2 linked regions of the Homo sapiens genome follow. The protein of the gene in region 1 purifies or fractionates together with the protein of each later gene. This does not show direct contact. Each region holds a gene or a part of one and is shown on either strand. Other genes may lie near its edges.

The links. Proteins that work in one complex are often made in the same cells at the same time.
Region 2: the proteins of ATXN2 (region 1) and CEP135 purify together in Homo sapiens (co-immunoprecipitation; one large-scale study listed by IntAct). This does not show direct contact.

What each region holds. Positions count from the first base shown.
Region 1 is NC_000012.12:111,487,816-111,491,315, forward strand, and holds part of ATXN2 (ataxin-2), read right to left. Parts: intron 966-3,500; coding exon 661-965; intron 1-660. UniProt on the Homo sapiens protein: Involved in EGFR trafficking, acting as negative regulator of endocytic EGFR internalization at the plasma membrane.
Region 2 is NC_000004.12:55,951,945-55,955,444, forward strand, and holds part of CEP135 (centrosomal protein of 135 kDa), read left to right. Parts: intron 1-141; 5' UTR 142-186; coding exon 187-299; intron 300-446; exon of another isoform or gene 447-527; intron 528-1,140; coding exon 1,141-1,331; intron 1,332-2,271; coding exon 2,272-2,439; intron 2,440-3,500. UniProt on the Homo sapiens protein: Centrosomal microtubule-binding protein involved in centriole biogenesis. Acts as a scaffolding protein during early centriole biogenesis.

The DNA of each region.
Region 1 (3,500 bases):
GGAAAAAGTCATGGCTGTAAAAAAAAATTGCCTCAAATCAAGAATAAGCAGTCCCCAATTTATCAATAAGCTGCATTCCAAAACTTCAGCTTTAACTGGATTGTTTGGTACCCAAACACCTAAGTCAATGGTAGTTAAGTTCTGAGGTTAGCCCCTAAAAGTCCATTTAATTAATATACTGAATGTGCAGAATTAAGTCTATCTTAACAAATCTAAACATTAACTAAAACACAGTTTCTGATGAAAAATATTTTGAATTCCAAGTAGAAGCACCGCATGCTTCTCTCCTTGACAGTGGCAGTTTTTCAACCTAGCAGCACAGTGAGGGTGACTAATGAGTGGAATCCAGTAAAGATAGGTCCCCTGAATTGATAATTTTTCAACTCCTGTTCATTTACAGAAAAACTTTTCTTAATTTATGCCTTGTTTTTCTAGCCCTGGGGTACAAAAAAGGGGAAGAACAGAAGAGTAGCACAGGGTGCAATAACCTCATTTACTTAAGATGTCATTTGTTTGGACTAGCTGTTTGTAAACTAAGGGCAATGTATAAAGTAGTCTAAAAGTCCAGATGGATTCTTCACAGTTGGAAGGACCTAAATGCCTTTAAAAAAAAAAAAGTTAATTGAGTAACAGGATGGTCTAAGTTCCAGGTTTACTCACTCAGCTGCGTCTTTCTTCTCTTCCTTATCGTCTTTCTCTTGTTTACATGCTGGGCTGGAAGTCTGAACCCCTTGGGAAGTGACCTCAGGTCCCCTCTTGTGCTCCGTGTTACTAAGTATTGAAGGGGAAATGCTGGGGCTATTCGGCTTGCTGCTGCCACTGGTACAGTTGCTGCTGCTATTTTCAATGAAAGAATCCTTAGCACTTGGTTCAATTTTGTCTTTGATCAAATCTCTTGATTTTTCTCCCTCTCTATTTTTGTTTAGTAGTTGATCCATAGATTCAGAAGTAGAACTTGGCTGTAACTAAATAAAGGAAACAATTATACTTAAATATCTTAAATAACTTTAGTAATACATTTTTGCCATGAGCACAAGCTACGTAATATTAACTATACGCATGAAATGTTCTGAATAAGGCTTTTTTCATACTTTAAGAGTAATGCTTTTACTATAAACTAACAATAACAGAGTACCTATATAGCACAACCACAGTCACCAAAGCACTCAAATGTCCTAGCCTCTAAAGTTCAATATTTACTGAGTGCTTACCACATGTCAGAAATTGTGCCTGCTGGGTGAGAAAAATATGAAATAGTTTCTATCCTCTTATACTTGTCATTTAAATAAGATCAGACACTTCACAATAAAATGAGTAAATGCTAAGAGAGTCTATAGAAAAAGCAACCTATAAAAAAGAAAGGTTTCTCAGTAAAGTGTCAGCTAGTCTAAGGTGTGAAAGAAGTTTAGGAAAGGTGTTGGGATGGAGAATAGTCTAAGTAAAAGGAAGAGTATGTTTAAAAATCCAAAGAAAAGGGAGAAGCTGGCTCTATCACATAAAACAATAGCACCAATGGGGGCCGGGCACGGTGGCTCACGCCTGTAATCCCAGCACTTTGGGAGGCCAAGGCAGGCGGATCACGAGGTCAGGAGATCGAGACCATCTTGGCTCACACGCTGAAACCCCATCTCTACTAAAAATACAAAAATTAGCCAGGCATGGTGGCAGGCGCCTATAGTCCCTGCTACTCGGGAGGCTGAGGTAGGAGAATGGTGTGAACCTGGGAAGTGGAGCTGCAGTGAGCCAAGATCACGCCACTGCACTCCAGCCTGGGTGACAGAGCGAGACTCCGTCTCAAAAAAAAAAAAAAAGATAGCACCAATGAGCTGGGCACAGTAGCTCATCACTGTAATTCCAGCCCTTTGGGAGGCTGAGACAAGCAGACTGCTTAAGCTCAGGAGTTCAAGACCAGCCTGGGCAACATAGTGATACCCTGTCTCATTTAAAAAATAATAATAAAATAAAATAAAATAACAAAAATAAAGAAGTAAAGAAAAGCACCAATGGCTGGACCAAGGGTGAGACACACATGTACAAGTGAGTCAGAAAATGATAGACTCGTCAAAAGGAATATGACAATAAAGGAACTTAAAAGCTATGTTCAGGGCTGCGTGCAGTGGCTAACACCTATCATCCTAGCACTTTGGGAAGCCAAGGCAGGTGGATCACTTGAGGTCAGGAGTTTAAGACCAGACTGGCCAACATGGTGAAACTCCGTCTCTACTAAAGATAAAAAAAAAAAATTAGCCAGGCGTGATGGCACACGTGTAAATCCCAGCTACTTGGGAGGCTGACATATGAGAATTGCTTGAACCCAGGAGGCGGAGGTTGCAGTGAGCCAAGATCACACCACTGCACTCCAGCCTGGGTGACAGAGCAAGACTCCATCTAAAAATTAAAAAAAAAAAAAAAAAAGTTTTAAAAAGCTACGTTTAGGACTTTGGCTTTTAATTCTCAGGGCAAATGGGCAGTCTATACGGAATTTTAAGTAGGGTAGAGTACTGGGCAGATTTATAGTTCAGAAAGGTGAACACAGCAGCTTTGTGTGAAATGAACTGGAGGGAGGCTAATTAGGATGTGGAGGGACCGTCATGGAGGCTGGACTAAGCGCTGGGCCTAGTCAGCTTGGAAGGTCATTAAGTAGGTGAATTCAGAATGAGACCTGACTGTACATATTGGTCAGTTAGACATTCTAAACCCCTAAGTAAAAAAAGGAGATGGCAGGGGAGAAGAGACAGAGCATGGTGGCCAAACAGAACCTTCCAGTGATCATCCCCAACAAGGAGCACCAAATTGAACAACTATCCACACAAGAAAGCACCTTCATAAGAACCAAAAATTAGGTAAGCGATCACAGTACCCAGTTTTGACATCCTATCAAGGAAAAAGACACCAAAAAAGATAAGGAAGATAGTCTTGAACTGCCCCTCCAACACCCCTGACATTCCCCCACAATGCAGTGTGGGGTGGAGAAAGAATCTGTGTGCTCGGGGGAGAGAGAGAGAAATGACTGTGGGATTTTGCATTGAAACTCAGTGCTGCCCTGTCACAGTGGAAAGCAGCATAGGACAGAATTCAGCCAGCACCCACAGAGGGAGTATTTAGACTAGCCCTAGTCAGAGGGGAATTGTCCATCCCAGTGATTAGAATCTGAATTTCGGGCTGGGCACTATGGTCTGTAATCCCAGCACTTTGGGAGGCCGAGGCGGACGGATAACCTGAGGTCGGGAGTTCAAGACCAGCCTGACCAACATGGAGAAACCTCATCTCTACTAAAAAACAAAAAAATTAGCCAGAGGTGGTAGCGCATGCCGGTAATCCCAGCTACTCAGGAGGCTGAGGTAGGAGAATTATTTGAACCCGGGAGGCGGAGGTTGTGGTGAGCTGAGATTGCGTCACTATACTCCAGCCTGGGCAATAAGAGCGAAACTCTGCCAAAAAAAACCAAAAGAATCTTAATTTTGGTAAGCCCCACCACCGTGGGTAAAGTCCTCTGGGGT
Region 2 (3,500 bases), on another chromosome or scaffold:
TAAATCTGAATTTTCCAGAAGGCTACCTACCTGAAGAAAAACAAAAAATAATTGCTTCATATTAAAATAATTTTTTCTTCTTATTGTGAAACAACAATCATAGCTATAATAAGATAATGATGTTTCATTCTTTTCTCTCAGGACTTTAATTTTTGGAAGTGAATAAAACTTGTTTTAGAAGACGAGATGACTACAGCTGTAGAGAGAAAGTATATTAATATTAGGAAAAGGCTGGATCAGCTGGGATACCGCCAGACTCTGACAGTGGAGTGTTTACCTTTGGTAGAAAAACTTTTCAGGTAAAGACAAAAATACAGTTTTCAACCTTTATGATCCCTAACCACTTACCTCATTTCTGATTGAACTTCATGCTTTGGTAAAGAAAAGGGTAGCTTTCCGGAAAGGCTTTCAATCATGAAGCTTATCTGTTTTTTCCCTGTCCTCAATCCAGGCCTTCCACACGGCAGAACTCTAAAGGCCACCACTCACGCTGTACTGTTCAAAGTCAACATTTCTGGGGGTTTTCTCTGTGAATGGAATTACAGTTTTTTGGGTTTCTGATATAATTGAGAGACACTTTTCCCTTAAGTTCTTTTTTTTTCCCCCCCTTAAGTTCTATGTCTGCTTCACTGGTCTTCAAATACAGTCATGGATAGTTTCATGACAGGGATACGTTCTGAGAAACATGTCATCATTAGGTGATTTTTTCGTTGTACCAACATCATAGGGTGTGCTTACACAAACCTAGATGGTGTCGCCTACCACAAACCTAGGCTATATGGTCTGTATCCTATGGCTCCTAGGCTACAAACCTGTATAGCATGTTACTATACTGAATACTGTAGGTAATTGTTAACACAGTGGTGCCTATTTGTATATCTGAACATATCTAAACATAGAAAAGGTATTGTGTTGTGCTACAGTGTTACAATGGCCAGATCTCATGAGGCAATAGGAATTTTTCAGCTGCCCCCATTATAAATCTTACAGGACTACTCTCCTTCCTATATGTGGTCTGTCGTTGACCAAAATGTCATCATGTGGTGCATGACTGTATTTTAAGCCTCTTTAGAAATATGTTTTTAGTTATTAGAAAGTTAATGAAATATTTCCTGGTATTTAAATTTTCTGTTCTTTTAGCGACTTAGTTCATACAACTGAGAGCCTTCGGCAATCAAAATTATCTGCTGTGAAAGCTGAAAAAGAAAGTGCCAATTTTGATTTTGTTTTGGAACCCTATAAACTTGAAAATGCAAGATTGAGTAGAGAAAATAATGAATTATACCTAGAGTTAATGAAACTGAGAGAACATTCAGACCAACACGTTAAAGGTAAGTGAAAATTTGATAATTTTTAAAATGCAATGTCTTTGTCCTTTTTATTTTAGAAGGAAAAGCTAACGTCTAATTTTAAAACTATTGATTAGAAAATATAGTAGTCCTACAGCTGGATGGTGTGTGCCTATAGTCCCAGCTACTCGGGAGTTTAAGGTGGGAGGATTGCTTGAGCCCAGGAGTTTGAGACCAGCCTAGGCAACATAGTGAGAACTTGTTTCAAAAAAAAAGAAAAGAAAAGAAAATATGGTACTCCTTCTGCTAATAGCCCCTGAAATACTATAGGGTATGTTGAAGAGTTCCTGAGAAGGAAAATAAATGTGCATTATATAGCTATGATAATCACTATATGTGGATTAAATTTTTAGAATTAAAAATTTAATTAAAATTTTAGAATTAAAATTGCCATAGGGAATATTAAATGCTGGATTTGAAGAAATGTTCTTGAAACAACTTTTGTTTTTCCCTTACTGAAAATAAAAGTAGTAAATAAGGTGAAAACCATGTATCATGCTGACTGTTTTATAGTCAGTCTTTGAGCTGTCAAGTAGAATAGGATGATTTCAAAGGTACTAGGGAAAAGATAATTATATGGTTATCTTTGTATGAATTATTCTTATATTCAGTAGAAAACTTTATCTAATCCATGGTATGAATTCATAATCCTTTAGCTTCAGACCCAATTTACTGGATCAAAAGCTATGATGTACGTTAGGCTAATACAGTAGCTGAAAAATGAAGATTCTCTTTTGTGCTTAGTGAGTTATTTGCAGTTTTGTTAATAATAGTAGAAGAAGGAATAAGTGTCAACTAAAGCATGCATAAGAAGCAGGTGGAGACTTTTAAATTGATATGACTTTTTGTATTTTGTGAAATGGAAAAACTTCATTGGATTTCTTGATCTTTAAAACGGTCTTTGAATCTTTTTCATTTTAAGAGTTGAAAACTTCATTGAAGAAATGTGCACGTGAAACAGCTGATCTGAAATTTCTGAATAACCAATATGCTCATAAACTCAAACTGTTGGAGAAAGAGAGCAAAGCTAAGAATGAAAGAATTCAACAACTTCAAGAAAAGAATTTGCATGCTGTAGTACAAACTCCAGGTAAATCGATTCCTTCTCGAGACAAATTATACACATTTAATCTTTTAACGATATTAACACCATTGACTAAAATAGGACTTTGGATTGGATTTTCATGCTTAGACTTTAGTGTTTGAAAATATATATTGAATAGACCGTAAACTTCTTGATTTATTTCTAATGATCCGGGTAGTAATTTATACGTGTGCTTAGAAATGTATGTAGTATTAGTTACTTAGATACTAGTCTAACTTTAATGCCCAGAGCTTTCTCTAATCAATATTTTAAATTCTTTTTTCTATTATTATTATCATTATTATTTTAGTTGTAAAAGTAATCCATACTCATTAAAGAATTTGGAAATTATGTACTTTCTTAGTTTATTTTACTATTTTTAGCATTATGCTTAGTAGTTATAGAGCAAGAAAAGGAAATGATGGGTCCAGGTGCAGTGGCTCACACCTGTAATCCCACCACTTTGGGAGGCTGAAGTGGGCAGATCATTTGAGGCCGCTTCAAGACCTGTGTGGGAACGTGATGAAACCCCACCTCTACCAAAAATACAAAAATTAGCTGGGCATGGTGGCGCAAGCCTATAGTTCCAGCTACTTGGGAGGCTGAGGTGGGAGGATTGCTTGAGCCTGGGAGGCGGAGGTTGCAGTGAGCTGAGATTGCACCACTGCACTCCAGCTTGGGTGATAGAGTGAGACCCTGTCTCAAAAAAAAAAAAAGAAATGATGGGCCACATCCAGAGTTGGTGATTGTTCAGCAGGTATGGGTTGGTGGTAGAATCTACAATATTAGTGACAAAATCATTAAGATAGCTGAACCATGGGATCAAGATTATGAAATTAAGTGAGTAACAGGGGGCTGCTGGATTATGAGGCTAGGTCAAGACAGATTAAAGAGCATGATGAGTACCAAAAGTAATTTGTTTGCTATGAAGATTGCAGTCAGAGTGGAATTTTGGAGTTGAAGAACTAGAAGCCAGCAGAGTTCTGAGTGATGACAAAGGCCAAAGTGTATCATCTTATTGTGTGCCTGAAGTTGAGGGGAGAGGAGACTCCTGAGAGTGGACAGAT